7 linked regions of the Homo sapiens genome follow. The protein of the gene in region 5 purifies or fractionates together with the protein of the main gene of each other region. This does not show direct contact. Each region holds a gene or a part of one and is shown on either strand. Other genes may lie near its edges.

The links.
Region 1: the proteins of OR2A4 (region 5) and BLVRB purify together in Homo sapiens (affinity purification with mass spectrometry; one large-scale study listed by BioGRID and IntAct). This does not show direct contact.
Region 2: the proteins of OR2A4 (region 5) and SDR9C7 purify together in Homo sapiens (affinity purification with mass spectrometry; one large-scale study listed by BioGRID and IntAct). This does not show direct contact.
Region 3: the proteins of OR2A4 (region 5) and ANXA8 purify together in Homo sapiens (affinity purification with mass spectrometry; one large-scale study listed by BioGRID and IntAct). This does not show direct contact.
Region 4: the proteins of OR2A4 (region 5) and CYP4F22 purify together in Homo sapiens (affinity purification with mass spectrometry; one large-scale study listed by BioGRID and IntAct). This does not show direct contact.
Region 6: the proteins of OR2A4 (region 5) and ACP3 purify together in Homo sapiens (affinity purification with mass spectrometry; one large-scale study listed by BioGRID and IntAct). This does not show direct contact.
Region 7: the proteins of OR2A4 (region 5) and GM2A purify together in Homo sapiens (affinity purification with mass spectrometry; one large-scale study listed by BioGRID and IntAct). This does not show direct contact.

What each region holds. Positions count from the first base shown.
Region 1 is NC_000019.10:40,448,746-40,452,245, forward strand, and holds part of BLVRB (flavin reductase (NADPH)), read right to left. Parts: intron 2,748-3,500; coding exon 2,619-2,747; intron 1-2,618. UniProt on the Homo sapiens protein: Enzyme that can both act as a NAD(P)H-dependent reductase and a S-nitroso-CoA-dependent nitrosyltransferase. Promotes fetal heme degradation during development.
Region 2 is NC_000012.12:56,927,909-56,931,408, forward strand, and holds part of SDR9C7 (short-chain dehydrogenase/reductase family 9C member 7), read right to left. Parts: intron 2,577-3,500; coding exon 2,318-2,576; intron 1,646-2,317; coding exon 1,482-1,645; intron 1-1,481. UniProt on the Homo sapiens protein: Plays a crucial role in the formation of the epidermal permeability barrier.
Region 3 is NC_000010.11:47,481,316-47,485,596, forward strand, and holds the start of ANXA8 (annexin A8), read right to left. Parts: upstream 2,801-4,281; 5' UTR 2,706-2,800; coding exon of another isoform or gene 2,619-2,705; coding exon 2,598-2,618; intron 1-2,597. UniProt on the Homo sapiens protein: This protein is an anticoagulant protein that acts as an indirect inhibitor of the thromboplastin-specific complex, which is involved in the blood coagulation cascade.
Region 4 is NC_000019.10:15,532,525-15,536,024, reverse strand, and holds part of CYP4F22 (ultra-long-chain fatty acid omega-hydroxylase), read right to left. Parts: intron 1-3,500. UniProt on the Homo sapiens protein: A cytochrome P450 monooxygenase involved in epidermal ceramide biosynthesis. Hydroxylates the terminal carbon (omega-hydroxylation) of ultra-long-chain fatty acyls (C28-C36) prior to ceramide synthesis.
Region 5 is NC_000006.12:131,699,144-131,702,748, forward strand, and holds OR2A4 (olfactory receptor 2A4), read right to left. Parts: upstream 2,259-3,605; coding exon 1,326-2,258; 3' UTR 501-1,325; downstream 1-500. UniProt on the Homo sapiens protein: Odorant receptor.
Region 6 is NC_000003.12:132,323,907-132,327,406, reverse strand, and holds part of ACP3 (prostatic acid phosphatase isoform PAP precursor), read right to left. Parts: intron 1-3,500. UniProt on the Homo sapiens protein: A non-specific tyrosine phosphatase that dephosphorylates a diverse number of substrates under acidic conditions (pH 4-6) including alkyl, aryl, and acyl orthophosphate monoesters and phosphorylated proteins.
Region 7 is NC_000005.10:151,259,685-151,263,184, reverse strand, and holds part of GM2A (ganglioside GM2 activator isoform 1 precursor), read right to left. Parts: intron 3,431-3,500; coding exon 3,269-3,430; intron 1-3,268.

The sequences.
Region 1 (3,500 bases), on a different chromosome or scaffold from region 5:
TATGGAACACACACCCTTGGCTGTGTGTTTGCTTGGGACAAAGCAGACAGGAAGCTCCTGCCCTGGCTGGGCACAGTGGCTCACGCCTGTAATCTCAGCACTTCGGGAGGCCAAGGTGGGAGGATCACTTGAGCTCAGGAGTTTGAGACCAGCCAACATGGCAAAACCACATCTCTACAAAAAATGCAAAAATTCGCTGAGTGTGGTGGCTTATGCCTGTAGTCCCAGCTACTTGGGCAGGAGAATCACTTGAGCCCAGAAGGCGGAGGTTGCAGTGAGCCAAGATTGTGCCATTGCGCTCCAGCCTGGGCTACAGAGGGAGACCCTGTCTCAAAAAAAAAAAAGGAACACACACCTTCACCCATGTGGCATTCCTGCCCAACATGTTTAATCTGAATCTGTGACAAAACAGCTAGAAAAATCCAGAATGTGGGCCTTTAAAGTCACCTGGCCTGGTTAATGTTATGAGAAACTTAAAGAAAAAGGGCAGAGTGGGTTGAATTTTTTTTTTTCTTTTTTGGATAGAGTCTTGCTCTGTCACCCAGGCTGGAGTACAGTGGTGCAATCTTGGCTCACTGCAACCTCCACCTCCCAGGTTCAAGCAATTCTTGTGCCTCAGCCTCCCGAGTATCTGGGATTACAGGTGTCCGCCACCACACCTGGCTAATTTTTGTATTTTTAGTAGAGACGGGGTCTCACCACGTTGGCCAGGCTGGTTTTGAACTCCTGACCTCAAGAGATCCACCCGCCTCAGCCTCCCAAAGTGCTGGGATTACAGATGTGAGCCACCACGCTGGCCTGACAGTTGGGGAAATTTTACTACGGAGTGGATACTAAATGATATGACAGAGTAAATGTCACTTTCCTTAGGTGTGAGCATGTTTTGTGTGCAAATATCTTTCTTTTAGGAGATGGCTGTCTAGGTATTTAGGAGTTAAGTGCGACAATGTTGCAATTCCTCTCAAATGATTAAGCCAAATATACATATGCATATATGTTTTCACAATATATTCAGCAAAATCTAACTATATATTCATGGAGAGAGAGAGAGGAGGAGAGAGGGAGAGACAACAGGATAAAATGCTAAGCATTGAACCTAAACAAAGGGCTTATGTGTATTCATAAACCTTTAATGCTTTCAAATCGGGAGGTGTGGAAGTTTTCACACACTTGGCTGGGCGTGGTGGCTCACGCCTGTAATCCCAGCACTTTGGGAGGCCAAGGTGGGCAGATCACGAGGTCAAGAGATCGAGACCATCTTGGCCAATATGGTGAAACCCCGTCTCTACTAAAAATACAAAAATTAGCTGGGCGTGGTGGCACGCGCCTGTAGTCCCAGCTATTCGGGGGGCTGAGGCAGGAGAATCACTTGAACCCAGGAGGCAAAAGGTTGCAGTGAGCCAAGATCGCACCACTGTACTCCAGCCTGGCGGCAGAGCAAGACTCTGTCTCAAAAAAAAAAAAAAAAAAAAAAAAAAAGCCAGGCGCAGTGGCTCACGCCTGTAATCCCAGCACTTTGGGAGGCCGAGGCGGGCGGATCACAAGGTCAGGAGATTGAGACCATCCTGGCTAACACTGTGAAACCCCGTCTGTATTAAAAAATACAAAAAATTAGCCAGGTGTGGTGGCGGGCGCCTGTAGTCCCAGCTACTCGGGAGGCTGGGCAGGAGAATGGGGTTTCACCATGTTAGCCAGGATGGTCTCGATCTCCTGACCTTGTGATCTGCCCGCCTCGGCCTCTCAAAGTGCTGGGATTACAGGCGTGAGCCACCGCACCCGGCCATTAATATCTATCTTTTCTTGTCTTTTTCTTTTTTTTTTTAGACAGGGTCTCACTCTATTACCCAGGCTGGAGTACAGCAGCCTGGGCAACAGTTTATTGCAGCCTTGATCTCCTGGGCTCAAGCCATCCTCCCGCCTCCCAGTAGCTGGGACCACAGGTGTGTGCCACGACGCCCAGCTAATTTTTTTTTTTTTTTGTAGAGATAAGTCTATGTTGCCCAGGCTGGTCTCAAACTCCTGGGCTGAAGAAATCCTCCCGTCTTGGCTTCCCAAAGTGATGAGATTACAGGTGTGAACCACCATGCCTGGCCTATGTATCTATCTATCTATCTATCTATCTATCTATCTATCTATCTATCTATCTAATCTCTATCTCCCATACTAGAAATGTAAGCCATGGCGGGGCATGGTGATGCAGGCCTGTAATCCCAGCTACTCAGGAGGCTGAAGCCCCAGAATCCATAGACATAATGGATTAAACCATTAGCCAGTGGTAATCCCCTCAACCTTCAATCCCTCACCACTCCCCAGAGGTGAAAGTCCCAACCCTGTAATCCAGCCTTAGTCTTTCTGGTGACCAGACCTGAAGCTGCCTAGGGGCTGCCAGCTCTCAGTGAACTCATTAGCATAGAAAAAGACATTTACCATTTTGGAGATTCCAAGGATTTTAGGAGTTGTATGCCAGGAAACAGGGACAAAGGCCAAATATATATGTCACAATATCATAGGAAGGTTTGCAATTTTAGGGTGGTCAGGGAAGGCCTTGCAGATCTCCCCAGAGGGCAGGAGGGAACAGGCAGATGGCATTGGTGCCACCAGGTCCCTGCCCTGCTTACCTATGTGTGGCGGCATCACAGCCACGTACTTCAGGCCTGATTCCCGCAGCACCTTGTGCATCCGGATGTGGTCATCAGTCACAGCCTGCAGTCGTGGGGGCACCTTGGTAGGGTCCCAGAGCAGGAAAGCTGGAGGGAACACAGGGCAGGATCAGCCTGGGCTCTCTTGTCTTTTTTTTTTTTTTTTTGAGACAGAGTGTCGCTTTGTCACCCAGGCTGAGTGCAGTGGCGCAATCTCGGCTCACTGCAACCTCTGCCTCCCGGGTTCAAGCAATTCTCCTGCCTCAGCCTCCCCAGTAGCTGGGATTACAGGTGCACACCACCAGGCCTGACTAATTTTTGTATTTTTAGTACAGACAGGGTTTTGCCATGTTGGCCAGGCTGGTCTCAAACTCCTGACCTCAGGTGATCCACCCTCCTCCACCTCCCAAAGTGCTGGAATTACAGGCATGAGCCATTGTGCCCAGCCAAGGGCTCGCTTGTCTTGATGCCAGGACAAAACCCTGCCATGGCTGACCATTGCTTTCCAGTTGCAAAAACAGGGGAGTCCTCTGGGGCTCCTCTTTCCCTCACACCCCAGGTAAGAGCTGTCTGCTGATCACAATAATTCCAAATCTGACCTCTTCTCACTCCGCCTGGTCCTGTCCACTGTTACCTCTTGCCTGGACCAGCCCAGCAGCCTACTCCCTGGTCTCTCAGCCCCTCCTTCCCTCCTCCCAAGGAGCCCGTGAACACCCCTATCAGTTCACATCCATAGCTCCATCTCACTCAGGGTAGAAGCAAAGTCCCCATGGCCAGCCCTCAAGGCCCCACCTGATATGGCCCCATCAGCCCTCTGACGTCCTTGCCTACTCTGCCTACCACTCTCTCTTACACGCCTCT
Region 2 (3,500 bases), on a different chromosome or scaffold from region 5:
CTTTTCTGCTTAAATAATTTGCATTGGATCTTCTGTCACTGAGTAAGTCCCAACTAGTGTAAATCCTTAGACATTTTCTTCTCACAGAATCCTAACATGTCTAGCACTAAAAGATGAATTTATCTAAGGAGTACTCCAAACATTTTTCCCTGAGACTTCCCTAAATCAATGAATGAAGACACCTCCATTCACCATGTTCTTCAAGCTGTAAAGCTAACACTCACCCTTGATAGCTTCCTCTCCCTCACCCCTTAATCCTCAGTGTGCTTTGATGCTCTAATTTATTCCGTATACCCCAGCTACCTCCCATTGCTTCCCACCTGCTGGTTTCTTTAAAGTTCCTCAAATGGAGTTTTCTGCCTCAGAGCCTTCCTGCAGAAAAAAAGTCCCTACGCATCCCCTCTTTCCCCTTCCCAGCAACACCTAACTCTTATTCCTCCTCAAAGTCAACTCAGAAGCTCTCCCCTTCACCATAGTCTGAATTGGGACCGCAACTTCCTGCTCCATTCTTCTTTCACAACCCTGTTTCTCCTCTGTAGCACTTATCCACATCTACCATAAACACATGTGTTTTGATTTATGTTTGTCTCCCCTACTGGGCCATAAGCTACAGGCAGTGAAGGGCAGGCATACTGCTGTGTCCGCTCCAGCTCTCCAGCCCCACACAGGCTTGGGACATGGCAGCCTTGCATGCTTTGTATTACTGATTCAAAACAAAAACAAAAAACAAAAATGCAATAAAGTGTGTATGTATTAAGTGAAAAAAATGGCTGACTTGGCTTTGTGCTCTGTTGACGTACGACATCCAGCAGACAACTTTCGTGGCAGAAAGTTTTGGGGCAGCAGGGTAAACAGCTGCCGTGTCCCACCTCTACCCTCCAAAAACACCTATGATTCACAGGAGACCCTCAGCTCAGGGAAAGAAAGAGAGTTGCCTAGAGACCCTCCCTTTTAAATCCCCATGTGCTCATTTTCTTCTTTATTAACAAGCACTCAGAATGTGCAAAGTACTTCACACATACTAACCCTCATAACAACCCCATGAGGGAGGCACTATCTTTAGCTCCATTTTGTAAATAAGAAAACTGAGGCATGGGAAAACTAGGTAATAGGTCCAAAGTCTCCTAGCTGGTAAGTAGTAGAGCCAGGATTTGAACCCAGGCAGTCCGGCTCCAGCAGCCATGCCCTTGATCTCTTTGCTGTATTTATCTCAGTGCATTTTCACCTGATTCCCCTGCATCATGATGCTGTGGGGGCAGGTGCCAGGAGTGGGCTGAATTGCCCTTAACTCCCCGGGCTGCTCCAGAAGTGATGATTCTGCCACTTGCTCTCTATTCTCAAACCCCAGCTGTGCCACTATGTGACCTTGGGTCCTGAACTCCTCTGCATTTTGTCTCACCATCTGTAAACGGAAAGCCAGCTAATGACCCCAAGACCCACTCGCCCCCCTCAGAGACCCCTCTCCTGCCCCAGGAACTTACAGATGCGGAAATAATCCTCTCCGTAGCTGTCCCGGGTCTCCTGAGGCAGCCTCTCCCAAAGCTTTCGCATGCGTGACTCCAGGTTCTCCTTGCCGAGAATGGCTGTCCGATAGTTCCCTGGCTCAATGATGCAGACTTTCACCCCAAAGTAGTAGAGCTCACGCCTGGGAAAGAAGAGTTGCAGTCAGTCTGGGCCCCAAGATGACAATCATCACGGAGAGTCACCTCTGGATGGGCTGGTCTTTCAGGAACCTAGAGATGCTTCTCTCACCCCTGTACTTGGCCCTGGCATTGCCTTTGTGCAAATAAGCCCTTCCTTAGGGACTCAGCCCTTTCCAAAACTGGCCCAACAGTCTCTGGGCAATTTGCATTAGGCACAACCAGCGGGAAGAAGTCAATAGAGAATCTAGGCCAAAGCCTTGCCTCCCACCAGGTCCCTCCCATTAGCAACCCCTCACTCAACACCCACACGGTGAATGGTGTGGATATACACAAGGCCTGCACGCTCCTCTAAGGACCTCCCAGAGGGGACCTGTGCCTCCAGGCCTGTCTGTCTGTTTGGGGGACTCTCCCTCCTCTCACAGGCCCAAACAGGGTTTCACTCACCCTGGTGCCGCTCAAGGGAAGGCCCACCTGATGCCTTGTATTTCCACCCTACCTCTTCTCCTCATCCCTGCTCTTGGTCCTTGGAGAAAGCACCTTGAGGTCTAACCTTCCTTCTGCTATTGTGTTAGCTTCCTGTCTGCGGAATTCCCCTGCCCACATGCTGTCACTCCCAACCCTCTCTAATCTCTGGGATTTTCACCCAGAATTGTTCAGTACCAGGGCCCAGTTACCTTATGCTGTCAGAGAAGGCCTCAACGCCAAACTTGGAGACGCAGTAGCCACCACCAATGACAGCCACACGACCACCAGAGCTGGACATGTTGACAACCCTGCCCCGGGCTCTCTTGACCATGGGCAGCATGTGAAGGGTCACTTCGATCAGTCCCACCAGGTTCACATTAATCACCTTCACAAAGTCATCCTTGGTCAGCCATTCGTTGGGACCACTGGGCAGGCCCACACCAGCATTGTTCACCAGGGCCCAGAGGCCTGGGGGTGAGATGAACCACACAGAAATCATCAGTGGGCCTGGGAAAGAACCAAGTTCTGCTCCCCACCGGCTCAGTGCCCTCAAGGATGGTTGAGCAGGTGCACAAGACATAACTCGGTCAGGCTATAACATAAAAGGAAGGTGTGTCTTTTACTAACTCGTTTTCCCTGAAGGGACACTTTTTCCTGATTCACATAAAGTCTGCCGGCTAGCTGGCGCTCTGTACTAGCTACAATCGAGGTGTTAGGTGACAGCATTTCAGCTATCAGCTTTGGGATAAGAGTTTCATTTTCATACCAATGAATTAATGTTTAGATCCCTTCCCCATCATACTTCTCCCTCTCTATTCACTTAAGTATAACCAACTGCATTTCACATACTACCAAAATCAATCCATTCATTCATTCATCTTCACACATTTATTCATGCATTTATCTAGTCTGTGACAATTACAGGGTGAAGGAGGCCAGGTGCAGTGACTCACACTTGTAATCACAACCCTTTGAGAGGCTGAGGTGGGAGGATCACTTGAGGCCAGGAGTTTGAGACCAGCCTGAGCAACAGAGTAAGACCCCTGTCTCTACAAAAAAAGAAAAAAAATTAGTCAGGCGTGGTGGTATGTGCCTGTAGTTCTAGCTACTTGGGAGGCTGAGGTGGGAGAATCACTTGAGCCCGGGTTACAGGTTACCTTGTTCGAGGTTACAGTGAGCTATAATGGTGCCATTGCACTCCAGCCTGGGTGACAGAGTGAGACTCTGTCTCTAAAAATAAAATGAAATAAAACGATATAAAATAAAATAAAGTAAAATACAGGGCAAAGGAGACATAAAATGAACAACACAGCATCTTATCCCTCAAGGAACTCACAAGCCTAGAAGGAAATAATAATATTTATAAATAAATATATAAAATATTTAAATAAA
Region 3 (4,281 bases), on a different chromosome or scaffold from region 5:
CTTTACAGAAAGGGAGCTGGACTCCCTTACACAGCTAGTAAGTGATGCTGTTGGGACTCCCCAGCCTGACTCAGAAGCTGAGCTCTATCTACCTCCCCTGCCCTACTGATGACTCCACCTTTCCCAGACAATGAGTGTTCCTGGAACGTTCCACTGAAGGAAGCTTCACCCACAGGAACGCAGGTCATCTGGGAATGTGGGAGGCATCTCAGCTCTCAGTGCCTGCCGGCTTCCCTCTGCCCCAGCACTCGGGGGCTGTGGTGCACCAGCGAGTGGCCAGGCTGTGTAACCGCATCCCTGAGGAGCATGCAGTCCCGCAGGGGTGCGGTAGGTCTCAGGTGCAGCATTTGTAAGCAGCTCCCTGGCTGGTTCTGATTTTGCTGCATTGAGAAGCCTCTGTCTCACTTCCCACTCTAAGGTTTTAGAAAATAAGTGTTCTGGGAATCGGAGCCCTGGCTATCAGTGTGGAGTCCTGGAGCTCCAGACCTCCTGCTGAGAAGGAAGGGTCAGCCTCAGGCTCCTGCAGGGTCTTGCCCAGGGCCGTGCTAGTCCAGACAGGCACATTTTCACTGAAAAGGTGACTCAGACCAGCCTGTGACTACATCTATTAATATAACTTGTTCTGTGACAGGCACAGGGGAGCTGCCACGCCTTGGCCTTCCCCTGCTACGTGGCTGCCCAGAGGCCTGGGAGATGGGTTTGTCTCTATGAGAGACACAGAGGAAAAGGCAACACCAAAAAGAGAGGTGCAGATGGACCCTGCCTGCAGACAGATCTCTCTCCAGTGGCTCCCTCATCTCCTCCCATCGCGTTCCTGGCCCAGCTTTGTGCCTAGAGGACACTGGGTCTTCGCTAGCAGCTCAGCTGTTGCAGGTGGGGTCTACCTGTGAACTTGCTACCCCTAGCCAGCTCTCACATGGGGTATGGACGACCAGGGTATGGTTTTGGCCCTGGAGTCAGGCTGTTCAGATTCTCACCTAGACTCTCACACTTACTAGTGAGTTCGGGCACCTGCCTAGCCTACTTGTGCCTCAGTTTCCTCATCTGTGGATAAGGATACTGGTGTCTACTTCATAGACTCCTTGTGAGGTTCAAGGGAGATATTGAATGTGAGGTGCTTAGAGAAGGGTCCGGCCACAGAGTAGGGACTCAGTGAGTGTCACAGTGATCCTGTCAATTTGGCAGGTCCCTACATGGACAGCCCTTTGTCCTGCTGCACTGGGTGCAAGGCCCAGTGCCAGACTGCCTTGGCCAGCAACTGACTTTGGAAACCACCCAGCACTGGGCTCTCCCTGCCATGTCCACCTCCTCAAAGGCAGGTTCCCAGCAGTCTGGTTGAAGCTGCAGGCCTCCATGGCCCCTTGTCCTGGAAGAAGGCTGCTTCCCTGGGGGCCAGGACAGCTGCCCCACCTCAGCCTGGCTTCCTCTTTGTCCCACCTGTCCAGAACCTAGCATGTCTGACCCTGAGGACACTTGCTTGGGTTGCGACATCTATGATCCAGAGACTCCCTGAAGCTGGACAAGCCTGGGTATCCCACAAAAGCTCACAGAGAACCTGGGGCTGGGCAGAGAGACCCAACTGCTCTCTGACTGGAGCCTGCTGGCCATTGGACCCTAGCAAGTCACTCAGTGTCTCTGAGCCTTCATTTCATCATCTGCAAAACAGAAAGTGCAGCCCTGACATCCTGAGGCTGCCTGGGAGGAAAGGAAAAGGGTGTGCAGAGCCGGCAGCCGGGAGATGTCACCTCTGTCCCCTTCTGGATATTCAACTCCTTAGCACAGCGATGGCCTCAGGCTCAACCATAGATGGAAAGCTCCCGAGAACCCATCAGTTCTGCTGGGGATGGGCTGCCCTGAGCCCCGGGTTCCTCCAGGCTCTAGCAGGCCAGGTCCTCCTGCTTCCCCTCTTCCCTCTCCAGTCTTGACAAATGAACATCATTGATCCCTGAGGTGAAGGCATTGATGGGTCCCCAACAGCAGGTTCAGGTTACTCTCATGCTCAAAGCCCTTCAGTGCCTTCCCACTTCTCTTAAGGTAAAGCCTAACTCCTCAGCCTGCCAGGCAAGGCCTTTCAGGACCTGGCCCTGCCTGCTTCCCCAGGTCCATCTCCTCCGGTACCAGGACCCTTGAGCTGTGCTGAGCAGCTTCCCTCGAAGCCAAGCTCCCTGCCCTCTGACCCTCTGCACACAGTTCCCTCTGCCAGGAGCAGTATGCCTGATTCTCCCCAAATGCACACGTGTGTGCACCCCATACACATTTACACACAAGGCTCAACCATGATACCCCCTCCTTTGAGTGGCCCCACCCCTGCAAGGGTCCCTCCCCTGGACTCTTCTCAAACCTCAGCTTCCCCCTTGCATTTCTAGATTTCTTCATCAGCCTGTCTCCCGGCCCAGGTCCCATCCCTGCCGTGGGCACTCTAGGCCTGGGACTGTTTCTTCTCGGCCCCTTCCCACCCTCCATGCTTGGCCCAGGAGGCAGCCAAATGTAGACTGAGCCACTCCCAGCCAAGGGCGACTTTACATTTCTCAGGACTCCCTGGTGACCAGCACCCAACACCATGCAGGAACCCAAATCTCCTGCCAGCTCCCACTTACCCAGGATTTCCACCAGGCCATCTCTTTCACCTCGGGGGCACCTTTCCCAGGGAGATGAAGAGACACAGGTTGGCCTCTGCTGGGACTCCACACGTCTGGCTCCTGCAGCTGAGGAGTGAGCAGGCCGCTCACTTGGGTGTGGGGGTGCAAGCCCGCCCAGGGCAGCGCCACACCTGCCTGCCGTCCCCTCGCCCCCGGGCTCTGCCTGGCTTTGGGCATCTCCTGTGGCTCCCAGGCCCCACCCAGACACTGCCCAGGCCTGCTCTGGGGAATTACACAACTCACTGGCAGATATTTGGGCTGTGGCTGTTACGCATACTGGAAATTCTTAGCTCCAGCCTGCGAAAGCCCCACTCAGTAAACACAGCTCCATGTTGATTAGGCTGGTCTCAAACTCCCGACCTCAGGTGATCTGCCCACCTTGGCCTACCAAAGTGCTGGGATTACAGGCATGAGCCACCGCACCCAGCCCATTTTCATCACTCCTAATAGCCATGGAGTATGCCATTTAATCAACTGCATATGCAATATTATTTTTTTTTTCCGGGGGCAAGGGGCTCATATTCACCACAGATGGGAGGCCAGTTGGTGAGAAGGTGGCAGGCGGCACAGCCACCTTATACAGCATGCCATACTGGTCCACTGTCAGACCGGTGATGGCCTCAGCTCCATCACCCCCCAGGCTGACTCTGGCTCCTGCCTGGCTCTGCCCGGCCACCACAACCCCTCGGGACCATTCAGAGGCATCACTGGAGGATGTGTGGTTAGTGGAGCAGCTGGTCATGGGGAGGTCTCGTTTCTTTGGTGGAAGGCATTCCTGGTTCCTCTCATGAACAGGTTTCATATTGCTTTGTGGTGTTCCTGGAGCCTGGAAGGAGTTGGCTTGCTCCCTGGGGCATCAGGAGGGGCTTCTCTGTAGCTTCTCTGAACCCCTCTCTGCTTCTGGCTGGGGCACCTACATCTGAGCTTCCAGTGGTGCTTCTGAGCAGCTGTAGTAAGCGTCCTCCCGGCTGGCTCGGGAGCCAGCCCATTTCACCACGCTTCCCGGGATCCACCCGCTCATCCTGGAGCCGCTGCAAACCTGGCCGCCGCCATCCCCAGCCCCGGAGCTGCCCCATACCCCTGTATATGCAATATTTGTTAACCATTCCCTTTTGGTGCCCATCTAGGTACAGGTATCATTTTTGGAGCTAAAGTATCTATAATACACTGGAAGTAACAGATGTCACCTCCATATTGTACGCCAAACCTAATAAGCAGAGCAAAACTTTTCATCCAAGCGATTTGGTTAACATTTTAGGATGTTTCTAATCTCTCAGTAATACAAATATGCTACAATAGATCTGTGTGTTTATCCTTTGGGCACCTGTGTGTGCCTGTGCATACCTGGAGAATAAAGTCCTGTGAGAGGAACTGCCATCCAAAGAGGGTGTTTCAGTCTGTACTGCCACCAACAATGTGCTTGTGCTTCTGAGCTTGCGTTTGGGTCAGGAGAATTTGAAAGTCATCAGGAACCAAACCAGGATATAAGGTTCAGCTGTAGCTGGAAAGTGGCAAGCGTTCCAAAGCTAAGACATTGGCTATACCTGGGCTGTTCACAAACTGTGAGTCCAATTCTAGATGAGATCCAGAAGTATGGTGAGCAACTCACTTATTTTTTAAGCAAAACACCTTTTTTTCTCAT
Region 4 (3,500 bases), on a different chromosome or scaffold from region 5:
GACCACGTGCTCTCTCTTCTCTGAGACTTTCCACCAGCTGTTCTCTCTGCCCCAAACACTCTTCCCTCATCCTGTATGAGAACTTGAATGCTTCTCCCCACCCCTGACCCAGCAGTCACTCTGGATTGTATCCACTTAGTTACAAGCCCCTTAACAGGAGGGTTCGTGTTGATTACTGATATGTTGTGCTAGATAAATTTTTATTAAATGAATAAATAAGTCAATCCAAGGATGGATGAATGAAAGAATAAATGGGTGGATGGATGAGTAGAGGGACAGATGAGTACATGGATGGATAAATAAGTGGATGGATGAATAGCAGATGGATAGATGGTGGGTGGGTGGATGGATGGATGGATGAATGGATGGATGGGTGGATGGTGGATGGATGGATGAGTGGATGGATGGATGAATGAGTGGATAGGTGGAAGGTGGATGGATGAATGAATGAATGAGTGGATGGATGAATGGATGGATCCTCCTTCTATATACTGAACAGATTTGGGGCTGAATGGGCAGAGGCCCAGGAAGGAAGTATCTGAAATTCGAGTGATATCACTTTTACCTGAATGCGACTCAGCCACCTACACCGACACAATCCCTAGGAATTGGCCAATTGCCTACACAATCATCCGCCCACTCATCCCCCCATTCATCACACCTCTTATGCTGCCTTTCTGTGCCCAACCCAAGCTGGGTGATGCTGGGGACCCACAGATGGCTCAGCTCTATGCCCTCCCTGGAGGAGCTCCTGAGTGGGGCAGGAAAGGGAAGCAGAGACACACCATGCAATTACCAAGAAGGTAGAAAGTGTGCTAGGTGCTAAGGAAGGCTCAGAAAAAGGGCTGTTGGAAGTCAGGGCAGGCTTCCTGGAGGAGGCAGCATTGAAGAGGAAAGCAGGAGTCTAGTCACTCCTCTCCTCTCTGCACTCTGGACTCCAAGATAGGCTCCACAGGGATCTTTCTGACACCAGGATCTGGTCAATAGCTGTCTTGTTCAAATACTTCCCGTGGCTCCCTATCACTCCCAGGATAAAGTACAAGTTCATTCACTTTGCTGTCCAGTTCCTGCTTAACTGTCAGTCTCATTTCCTATTCCCCCCAACATATCACCTTCACTCCAGCCACCCTAAATCACCTGAATTCCCCTGGAATTTTCACACATCTGCATCAAGGCACTGGCAGGACCTTCCATCTGGGACTCCTTCTCTGGCAAGCTCCTAGGCATCCTTCGGGGCCCAGCTTCACTGACACCTACTCCAGGAAGCCTTCTCCAAACCCCCTTCTCAGCTGAACCATTGTTCTCTCATCCTCAGGTTCCTTTTCCACTCCAACTCTGACCACAATGCCAGGAAAGTCTGTGTCCACGCTCCTCACCAGTTTTCCCCTCCAGCAAAAAGGAGATGGTAGGCCAGGTGCAATGATTCACACCTGCAGTCCTAGCACTTTGGGAGGCAGAGGCAGGAGGATCACTTGAGCCCAGAAGTTCAAGACCAGCCTGGGCAACACAGCAAGACTCTGTCTCTACAAAAATGTTTTTTAAAAAGAAAAAAAAAAAGAGGGAGAGATGGTAATGCCTACCATGGATGAGACGGTGTACGAAATACCCCCACATGGTGCCAGCATGGAGAAACTCATGCTCAGAAAGCTGCATATCACTATGTTTGAGAGCTTGGGTTCTGGGCCAGCCAGGTCTGAGTTCAAATCCCAGCCCTGCCACTAACTAGATATGTAAGCCTGGACATGTTACCACTGCCAAAGGAGAAAATAGAACAATCTTGCCTCATGGCATCCCTATAAGACTCAACAAGCTCTTGTGTTCCTGGCACATGGTAGATGCTCATTAAATACGTGCGTAGGTAAATGAATAATTGACCAACTGTTGGCTATTTTTATTACTATGGTTAAAATGATTATTTATTGGCATCAAGAACTTGTGAGATAAATAGTTGTGTTTCCTGTTAGTAGAAAATTAATGCACACCCTCTGTGGAAAACAGCAAGGTGGCTCCTTAAAAAGTTAAGTACAGAATTCCATATGACTTGGCAATTCTACTCCTAGGTATCTACCCAAGAGAGAAATGAAAACATATGTCCACCCCAAAACTTGAACACATATGTTCATAGTAGCATGATTCACAACATCCAAAAGGTGAATGGGTAAACAAAAAAAAATCCATACAGTGAAATGAATTCAGCCCTAATGACCAACCTGGACAACATAGCAAGACCCCATCTCTACAAAAATAAAAATAAAAATTAGCTGGGCATGGTGGTGCGTGCCTGCAGTTCCAGCTACTCGGGAGGCTGAGGCAGGAGGAGAATCACTCGAGCCCAGGATTTCAAGGCTGTAATGAGTTATGGCTACACCACTGCACTCCAGCCTCTGGGTGACAGGGTAAGACCCTGTCTCAAAAAAAAAAAAAAAAAAAAAAGAATGAAACTGATTCCTACTACAACGTGAATGAACTTCAAAAACATTATGCTGAGTAAAAGAAAACAGACACAAAAAGATCACATTTTATGTGGTTCTCTTTCTATGATGTACCCAGAATAGGCAAATACATAGAGACAGAAAGCAGATTCGAGGTTACCAGCGGATGGGAGGAGGAGGGAAATGGGAAGTGATTACTCAATGGGTACAGAGTTTTTTTATGAGGTGACTAAAAATTTTGAAACTGGAAAATGCTGGTGGTTGCCCAACATGGTGAATACACTAAATACCACTGATTGTTCACTTGTAAATGGTTAATTATATGTTACATGAATTTCACCTCCATTTTAAAAAGATGATATAAAAGCAAGCTACAATTATATGTCTATATATCATCATGTTCTCTATAAAGCATGTTTATCTACTTTCTCTCATTAAAATTTCCTAGTCCAAAGGCCCATAAGATGATGGGGAAACTGAAGCTCCAACAGGAGCTGGGCCCTCCTCCAGGCTCAAGGGCTGTGCAGCTCCAAGCTCAGAACAGCAAGCCACTCCCAGGTGTGGCCCCAGGAGGTCCTGATCCAGGGTGGTGTCTGTGACTGGAGCCTGATCTGTGTAATTCCAGGTGGGGGCACCCTGGGGCCAAGAGGCCTCACTCCAGGCTGACTCACAGCACCACCCTTTTTTCCATCCTGGAGTTCCCTATCTGGCTTCTCTGATGGGGTACACAGAATATCCCCTCCCTCCACTGGATGAGGGGAGGGCAAGAGGCTTAAGCATCTACTACATGACAGCCCCTGCTGGGGCACTACTCCTCGGTCTGTTTGGAGTCTCAGAACCAGGCAGGATGGTGCTCAGGAAACTGATGCTCTGAGGGGGAGGAGAAGGGAGGAGGAAGGAGAAAAAAGAGAGACCAGGCGCTGTAGCTCACGCCTGTAATCCCAGCACTTTGAGAGGCCAAGGCAGGAGAATCACTTAAGGTCAGGAGTTCAAGACCAGCCTGGCCAATATGGTGCAGCCCCGTCTCTACTGAAAAAAAAAAATACAAAAATTAGCCAGGTGTGGTGG
Region 5 (3,605 bases):
AGGAGAATTGTTTCAACCCAGGAGGCAGAGGTTGCGGTGAGCCGAGATTGCACCACTGCACTCCAGCCTGGGCTATAGAGCAAGACTGTCTCAAAAAAAAAAAAAAAAAAAAAGGATAAAATAGTTTTAGGACATAGTTTTATATCTAACATGATATGACACTGAGTTATTGTGTAAAAAGTTATTTTAAAATATAAAAGTAAATTCTTTGAACTAAGACAATGAGAAATTAAATATAAATGTTTAAGACCAAACTTAAACCTAGAAAAAACATCATCTCAAAATGACATGTTTCCCATGGCATAAGAAGCTGCTACAACTTTTAAGTGTGTAGGTGGTGGATTTTGAAATCTTTCTAGATTTTTCTTTCTTGAGAAATCTGGGTTTATCTTGAAAACCCTGAATTAGAAAAATTAGATTGATTTCATTCAGCGGCAAACACAGGAAGATGTATACTGAATCATATTTCTTAAAAATCTCAAATTTAGAAGATTGTGAGGTTGAATGAGGTCATCTCCTGAAGCTTCTATAGCAGGAATGCCGATCCATGATGAAGGACAGGATTGCATTTATTTTCTTTAGATGATCTACCATTGAACAGTAGAGACAGGGTCCCTCACGGTCTGTATCCAAACAGAACCCGGATTTTTACAGACTGATCGAGGCATAATGCTCAGAACTACATCTCTTTAGAGGCTCACTTTGCAAGGAAAAAAGAAATCATTCTGCCCTAGAAGGGGGCTGTAGGAAGTATTCACAATGAGTCAATTAATATCAAGATCTCCTGTTCCAGGAAACTGTTACTAAGTATTACAAAGGAAATTTTATGTGCTCACATAAGTTTAGAAAACACTGGCTTAAAGCTGGTATAGAATTATTCTTTCCTAGAGAAATATTTACAGCATTCACTATGCTAATATGAATTGTGATCCCTAGACAGAGGCATCTGATGTGAAGTAAGTCTCAAACTTATTTGACTATAGAACTTATTTTTAAAGTCCTCTGAAGGGACCAGTGTTTTGAGGAAAACATTATGGGAGGTATGGGACTGGATCAAAAGCTAATGAGGATATTGTAAGGGGTATTGTCCTGGTGTGGAGTGGCTGCAGCACAACTTGAAGAGATCAATTTCTAGAATTTCATCCCACATCTGCTGAAATCAGTCATTTAAAGGTAGGGCAGGAGATAGCTCCATTTTAAATAAATGTCTCAGATAATTCTCATGTCCATTGAGGGCAGAGGTCCCACCAGTGCAGAGATGGGTTAAGAACCGCTCAATGATGTAACTTCCTAGGTCACTGTCAGTCACAATGCCATAATCCTTTTCATAAAGCCCTTTCTACTCCCAGCACTCTCTTCAAAGTATTCTTCACTTCTGAGTTCCTAAGACTACAGATAAGGGGATTGAGCATGGGATTAAAGAGGCTGTGAAACAGCAGGAGATATTTCTTCTGCTCCTTGGGGTTCCCATATCTGGGTCCAACATACATGATAATGGCTGTGCCATAAACGAGTCCAATCACACAGAGGTGGGAGAAGCAGGTGCGGAAGGCTTTCCTCTGAACTTCCCTTGATTGGATCTGAAGGATAGCACAGAGGATGCACATATATGAAACTACAATTGTGGACAAGGGTCCCACCAGCCCAGAAATTGCTCCGGCCAAGACCATGTTCTCATTGATGTGGGTATCTGCACAGGCAAGTTTGAGAACAGCCAAGATTTCACAAAAAAAGTGATAAATTTTCTGGGGCCTACAGAAGGGTAAAGGTAGAAGTAACACAAGATGAATCAAGGATAAAAGGACTCCAGTGGTCCAGGAAGTCACCGCGAGGGTGATGCAGACTCTCCAGGTCATGATGGCCAAATATCGGAGGGGGTGGCAGATGGCCACGTACAGATCATAGGACATCACCACCAGGAGGAGACATTCTGTGACAGCAAAAGTGGAAAACAGAAAGGTCTGCATCATGCGGCCCGCAAAGGAGATGGGCTTGGCTGGATGCAGGAGGTTCACCAGCATCCGGGGCACCGTGTTGCAGGCGTAGGCGATGTCGACGACCGCCAGGTGTGAGAGGAAGAAGTACATGGGGGCGTGCAGTCTGGAGTCCAGTGAGATGAGCCCCAGTATGGTCCCGTTCCCCAGCAGGGTGAAGACGTAGAACAGGGAGAAGAGCCCAAAGAGGAGCATCTGAATCCTTGGGCCAACGGGAAATCCCAGTAGGAGGAACTCTCTGATGGATGTTATATTGTCTCCCATATCCCTATGACAGAGGAAATCAAGTTAATGCTCATGGTTTAGGAGAAGTGTTTAAAAACAGATTCATTTTAACTTGTTCGGCACTCTTTGGTGAAGTAGAAAAGTGTTCAGACAGCTGCAGTGAGTTTTTGTGTTTTTAAATGAATGCTTCAAGACAATTTGGTAACGCTAAAATAAATGTTTAAAAAATATATGCAGGCCGGGTGCGGTAGCTCACGCCTGTAATCCCAGCACTTTGGGAGGCCGAGGCGGGCGGATTGCCTGAGCTCAGGAGTTCGAGACCAGCATTGACAACACGGTGAAACCCCATTTCTACTAAAAATACAAAAAATTAGCCCGGCGTGGCGGCGTGTACCTGTAGTCCCAGCTACTCGGGAGGCTGAGGCAGGAGAATTGCTTGATCCCAGGAGGCGGAGCTTGCAGTGAGCCGAGATCGCAACACTGCACTCCAGCCTGGGTGACAGAGCCAGACTCTGTCTCCAGAAAAAAAAAAAAAAGAAAAGAAAAAAAAAACGCGTGCACACGTATACATAGGTTTCTTTTTTATTACGTTAATTTTTTAATAAAGGCTAAAATTTAAAAATAAACATGTCACATATTAATATATCCTTTTGGTCTTTTTTTAAAAAAAATTTGGCTCAGGCCTTTCAGGGATGAATGTCACATGTCAATGTAGTACACAGTTTTTGTTTGATTCAGTGAGCTATCTCATATCCTTCAAATAAATTCTTCTTTTCCTTGGTCGTATTATTCAGAGTTTTTCTCTGTTATGTTTCAGAAACAATGAACACTAACTGATACACATGTCAAAGTCTTAAAACCACATTAAGTTTAATCTTAAAGTGGAAGGTTTAATTAAGGGCGGGCTATACTAAGGTTCGACATACCATCAGCCAAATACACCAGTGGTCATTCACCTCTTAAACTTTCCACTCTTGCACTGATCATCACCTCCACAGCATATATCTCACAAAATCTTTTCTTATCCAAGTGTAAAGACTTATTTTTTAGCCCAGAACATTATTTTTTGTTATTTACTTTCCCACAATGTTTAGATGAGCATTTATGTGAATGACTGAATAGATTTGCACTGTGTCATTATCTAAACACGAAAACAGGATCAGTAACTTTTGTTGGATTTGGGCTTACTATTGATAAACACTCTAGAATACACAGTTTTAAGCATTGTCTATGCAGGTGATTGGCAATAGTTCGATGAATTTATGAGGAATGCTGCAGAAAGAGTCTCTGAATTCTCTGATTGAACTCAGGCCTCCTTGATCCCACAATTAAAATGTTAGCATAAGCATGATATTGTCATTTTTGCTTAAATTTTATTCTCATTTT
Region 6 (3,500 bases), on a different chromosome or scaffold from region 5:
GAGAAGCTGGGATTACAGGCACACGCCACCACACCCAGCTAATCTTTGTATTTTTAGTAGAGATGGGGTTTCACCATGTTGGCCAGGCTGGTCTTGAACTCCTGACCTAGTGATCCACCTGCCTTGGCCTCCCAAAGTGCTGGGATTACAGGCATGAGCCACCACACCTGGCAACATTTTATATACAATAAAAATAATAGATTTTTAACACCACATACAATTTGTGACCATTTTGAGCCAATGATTTGTTCATTTTTTGGAGATTAGGAGTAAAAGATTGCAGGTGGGGAGGTTAGGAAAGCTAATTCTCAATACTTTAATAACATACTTCTATATTTGTACCCATGTCATGCTATTGTGATTGCACATTTCTCTTTGGGAAGAGTAGTCTGGACTTTTGAAATCTTGGTGCTTTGATTCTAATATGCTTTCTCAGTATAATATCAAACCAAACACAAAGCCATCTTATGAGCAAAAGATAAGGAAAGAAAACACTGAAGAACTACAAGATGAAGTCTACACTGATGTCAGCAAATATTTTTAATATAGAGACAGCTGCATAACACCTTGATTTATCTGAGGTTACCCGCACCTGTACTTATACTACCTGGCTAAAATGTTCCATTGAAAAGTAAGCTAAGAACCTGCTCTTTTGAAATTCTGTAAAACAGAATTCAATAGACATTAAATAAGAAAACAGTCTCAGACTTTAGTCATTTTTGAGAAGGAATTCCAAGAAAGTGGGAGATGCTTGGTTTGTGTCTCTAATATCTGAAGAAAACAGATCTTTTGGCCCTTTAAACTAGTGACAAATTAAAACTTCGGTAGAGTAGTCTACAGAAACAGGGGCAATGATGCAATAAATGTTAAGCGATCATTTTGGTCAGGTGAGAAATTACTTTCATGAATGATCCCCTGAAGGCAGGAAGGACAGCTGCATATTTTTTTGTGAGCACCTGCAGTTACTAGTCTCAGGGGTGACTTGGTCATGATCAGAAATGATTATGGTTAATCATTGATGCCTCTTTCCACAATTGAAGTACATTTTAGAGTTTTTATATCCCAGGTAAATGTGTCTTTGAATAACTAAAGTTGTTACATGGTTTCAATAAATTACAAACCCCACACTGTTTTAGTTTCTAGGGCTTCTCAACCTCAGCATTGTTGACATTTTGGGCTAGATAATTCTTTGTTGTGGGGGTTGTCCTGTGCATTGTAGAATGTCTAGCAGCATCCCTAGCCTTTACCCACCGGATGCCAGTAACATTCCCCAGCTGTGACAACTGAAAAAGGCACATTTTCTGCCATAGGGGCAGAAAATCACCCCAAGTTGAGAGCCACTGAGTTAGCCAAAGAGAAGTCAGGTGAGAGACATTGTAATAAAATAATTTACATTGCTTCCCACCAACCTATAACCACAACGGTAACTCCTTAACATTTTTTGAACACTCACTTTGTCCTGGAAACTGTGCTAAGTGCTTCTCATAGATGTAATCTTCTCATCAGTTCCACAAAGCAGTTACTATTATTATTTCCATTTCACAAATGAGGAAGTTTAGCTTAATTAAGTGACCTGTCTAAACTCACACAGCATGTAAGAAGTGGTAGAGCTGATATTCAAACACAGGCTGTGCCTCCAACTCCAGCATACTTAACCACCTGTGAGAGGTTCATTTCTGTATGATCACACTCCTCACAGTCCCACCAGCTAAATCTGAATGGTCTGGGATCTAACGCTTCTTTATTAACTCTACTTAGTATACTCTTTTCCTCTAGGATTGGAAGGGGTGTGTGTGTGTGTGTGTGTGTGTTTTGTATCAGAAGAAACCAAAACCTTGATACGGAAACTACCCCGAAGGCACTGTGAACTATGTATATTATTGAAAGAATAGAACTGAGGTTATGCAACTAAATGACAGAATGGCCTGAGAGAGAAAAACAAGTGTGGTCACCTTAGCAGAGTGTTTTGAAGAGCAGAGAACTGGAACATAATCATGAGACTTGGGCAAACTTTCTCACTCTGGCCCATAGTTCAGAAATAATTGTACTCCCCTACATTTCAGTAGGTTTTAAGTGTTTCCAAGGTAGTTGCTCAAACATGCTGTCAACCCTTTGGAAGGGATGTCCTGGAGAAACACTTAATAAACCATTCTCCACTTCCAGGGCTGGAAATCAAAATGTGTGCACACACCCCTCCCGCAGGCAAATGTGAAGCTGGTGTTCCTTGAGCTTTTGGAGTTTCAAAATTCAGCTGGAGTTCTTGGACTATGCGAAGACATTCTTTTAATTCTGTGGTAGAGCAATCTTCTTAACTGCTGCTCTACCAATTATTACCTCTGTGCTCAGTCCAGCAATCATACTCTATGAAATCCTTTAAAAACCTAAAAATACTTTATTAGCAATTAGGATTTTTGCAGTAGTAGTGGTAATTGTAATAGAAAGACATCCAAGATAATAACAATTCCTGGCCAGGCACAGTGGCTCATGCCTATAATCCCAGCACTTTGGGAGGCTGAGGCAGGCGGATCATGAGGTCAGGAGATCAAGACTATCCTGGCCAACATGGTGAAACCCCATCTCTACTAAAAATACAAAAATTAGCTGGGTGTGGTGGCGCATGCCTGTAGTCCCAGCTACTCGGGAGACTGAGGCAGGAGAATCACTTGAACCTGGGAGGCAGAGGTTGCAGTAAGCCGAGATCGTGCCACTGCACTTCAGCCTGGTGACAGAGTGAGACTCCGTCTCAAAATAAATAAATAAAAATAAAAAAAAATAATAATTCCTTACATTTGCACAACCCTCCATGGTTTGTAGAATTTTCCCCTGCTACCTCTTTTAATTATTACATCCCCGTCTGAGGACAGGTTGGCACTACTGCTGCACTGAGCAAGTAAGAAAACTATATGATCAAAGAGATCATGTAGCTGTCCAGATCTCCTAATTCTCATGATAGTTGGCCCACTGTTTCCCCATCATACTACAATCACTTCACACTTTTAAATCATAGGTAACTGTTTTTAAAAGGACTTTTGGTTTGGTGCCCCCATGAATGAACCTGCTCCACTGAATCTGCTAAACAAATCTGGCATGTGGCTTAGGGTGTGGAGAACCTGGTGAGTACAGTCGAGGCTATATCCAGTGGAAAATGTAAAGATATACAAAAGTGGAGTTTTTTTTTTTTTTTTTTTGAGATGGAGTCCTGCTCTTGTTGCCCAGGCTGGAGTGCAATGGCATGATCTTGGCTCACTGCAACCTCTGCCTCCCAGGTTCAAGTGATTTTCCTGCCTCACCCTCCCAAGTAGCTGGGATTACAAGCACCTGCCACCACGCCTGGCTAATTTTTGTATTTTTAGTAGAGACGGGGTTTCGCCATGTTGGCCAGGCTGGTCTCGAACTCCCGACCTCAGGTGATCCACTCGCCTTGGCCTCCCAAAGTGTTGGGATTACAGGCGTGAGCCACTGTGCCCAGCCTAAAAGTGGAGATTTTTATCATGAGCCCA
Region 7 (3,500 bases), on a different chromosome or scaffold from region 5:
GGAGGCAGAGGTTGCAATGAGCCATGATCGCGCGACTACACTCCAGTCTAGGCAACAGAGTGAAACTCCATCTCAAAAAAAAAAAAAAAAAAAAAGAAATTGGGGAAAAAGAAGGAGCAGAGGGGATCTGAGGCTAATTTTTCCTAAGCACAAGTGACAGTAAAGACAGAGGAGATTATGTAGGCCCAAATTTATGAAAGGTAATAAAGCAATGGAAAAGGAGAATAGGGAGTAAAACCCATCTTAATGGTTTGTGAAGAAGCCAGGAAAAGCAGGCTGAGGGCAGAAGAGCGGGTTTGCCAGCTTCTTGTTTCCAAGTCAGCTGCATAGCCCCCTCCCTGGAAACACCAGTGGCTGCATGGTGATGGCAGCAGAGGGAGCATGGCGGACGGCCTACCAGGAGAGCCCACACTCCAGATCAGCAGAGGGAGCACACAAATAAATGTGTGTGACCCTGGCAGAGAAACAGTCCAGTGTCCATACATAGGGAATGATTCCATCCCTTGGCCCAGATCCAAGGGTACAGGGCTTGACCCCCTATCACTTGAGGAACAGTAATGGAAACACAATGACTCTGCTAGGAAAAGGCTTGGTAGGAGGTGCAGGGGAGCTGAAAGCTGCCACATATCCAGGACTTGTGTCTGGGTCAAGAGACTGCAGGATAAGACAGATACTAATCGAAATGTTCACAAGATATAAAATGTACTGAGCATGTCCTGGGTGCCAGGCCCTGTGCAAAGCACTTTCCACATGATTTTCTAACTCAGGTATTGCTCAAGGAAAGCCCATAACGTAGGAGCTGTGATTAAGACAGGTCTAAGGATAATGATAGAAACACAGAATCCAAATCAGGAATCTTCTAAATAATTAACACAAAACTGGTACTAGAATAGATCTGGATCAGGAACAGACTGAAGGGCATAGAGGAGCATCATATAAAGGTAGCAATTTTAGCTAGAGAGGAAAGGACCATATTAAATGGTGTTGCAATGGATATATGAAAAGTCTTCATTGTTTTCTAAGAAAATATAAAAACATACACCCCTAAAATAGTCAATGGATGGAAACAAACAGGTTATTCCCAAAGTAAATACAAAAGGCAAATAAACTTATGAATAGACATCTACGCTCACTAGGAATGATGCAGGTTTATTCAAACATTGGGAGGCACTTTGGCAAAATGTATCAAAAGACCTAAAAAGTGTGTATCTAGAGAATCAGAAAATTATAAAAAGATGTACTATAAGAATAATTTCTACAAAGGTGGTTACTACAGCAAAACAAAAAACAAACAAACAAAAAAAACCCTCTGGCCAGGTACAGTGGCTCAAGCCTATAATCCCAGCACTTTGGGAGGCTGAGGCAGGTGGATTGCCTGAGGTCAGGAGTTCAAGACCAGCCTGGATAACATGGTGAAACCCCATCTCTACTAAAAATACAAAAAGTAGCTGGGCATGGTGGCAGGTGTCTGTAATCCCAGCACTTTGGGAGGCCGAGGCAGGCACATTGCCTGAGGTCAGGAGTTCAAGACCAGCCTGGCCAACATGGTGAAACCCCATCTCTACTAAAAATACAAAAATTAGTGGGGCGCAATGGCAGGTGCCTGTAATCCCAGCACTTTGGGAGGCTGAGACAGGAGAATCGCTTGAACCCGGGAAGTGGAGGTTGCAGGGAGCTGAGATTGCGCTACTGCACTCCAGCCTAGGCAACAGAGTAAGAACCTGTCTCAAAACAAACAAATAAACAAACAAACAAATAAAAACTACCCTGGAAACAAACTAAATGTTCAACAATAGACTTGTTATATAAATTATGAAAGATCCACATCAGAATATTTCTGCCATTAAAAATGATTGGGTGGGCTGAGCAAGGTGGCTCACGCCTATAATCCCAACATTTTGAGAGTCTGAGGCAGGAGGATTGCTTGAACTCAGGAGTTTGAGACCAGCCTGGGCAACACAGGGAGGCTCCGTCTCCATAAAAAATAAAAAAATTAGGTAAGCATGGTGACATGAACCTGTGGTCCCAGCTACTCAGGAGGCTGAGGTGGGAGGATCCCTTAAGCCCAGGAGGTCAAGGCTGCAGTAAGCCATGATCACACTACTGCACTCCAGCCTGAGCAACAGAGTGACACACTGTCTCTAAAATTACAATACATTAAAATAATAAAATAATGATTGGATAAAAAAAAATTGAATAAGTAGAGCCACCTAATCCTTGGAAAGATATGGACATATAGTATGAGGCAAAAAAAATAGCAAGTATAATAGCACATATCATATAATCCCATGAGTATAAGTGTGTATATATTTACAAACACATAAAAATTCTGATGGGATATATAAAGAGCAAACACTGACTATCTCTAGGATTTAGATTACTGGAGGACATTTACAATGAGCACTGCCTATTATCATACATATCCATTAAAAATAAATATGTGTGTTATGTATGTAATTGTATGGGGGAAAGTTGCAAAGAATATCCTATAAGATGTTAAAAGTGCTTATCCCTTATCACTAGGTAGTGAGATTTCAAGTGATTTATTTTATTTATTTATTTATTTTGGGACAGAGTTTCACTCTGTCACCCAGGCTGGAGTGCAGTGGTGCGATCCTGGCTTTCTGCAACCTCTGCCTCTTGGGTTCCAGCAATTCTCCTACCTCAGCCTCCTGAGTAGCTAGGATTACAGGCACATGCCACCACGCCCAGCTAATTTTTGTACTTTTAGTAGAGATGGGGTTTCACTATGTTGGCCAGGCTGGTCTCAAACTCCTGACCTCAAAAGATCCACCCACCTCAGCCTCCCAAAGTGTTGGGATTACAGGCATGAGCCACCACACCTGGCCTATTTTATTTATTTTTTGACCACTTGTGTTTTCTAAAGTGACTATATATTACTGGCTAATTGGTATATCAATTTTATAATTAACAACAAAACCAAATTGGCCAACCAGAGCTGTCAGACAATAATGAGCAGTTGGCCACCAGGCCCAGAGAAGGCCAGGACGCTTCTGCCAGGTGCAAGGTATCCGTCACTCCTGCCCTCACCAGGAAGTTGCTGGCGCTGACATCAGAGATTCCTTTCAATCTTATGATCCTGAGATTCCATGAACCTGTGAAAGAGTGTCTGAATCTACATGTCCTGTACTATTCTCTGGGAATCCAGGATTCTGAAATTCTTCACAGTTCCCCAAGCATACATGCCCCAGTACCCCTGCTGGCCAGACCCTCGCACCTCCCCTTCTCCACCCACCCCCAGGCTCACCTTCAGAGGAGAACTCAGGGGGACACTGGTGCTGCCCATGACACTGAGGGTCACATTTCCAGGAACGATGATGGGGTCAGGCTCCAGAGTCAGGCTTCTGATCACCGCAGGGTCCTTCCCTTCATCACAGTTATCCCAGGAAAAGCTACTGAGCTGGGATGGCTGGGGACAATCAGGCAGCAAGGAAGGAGAAGAAGAAAAAGGTTGACAAAAGAAACTATCACAGATCACA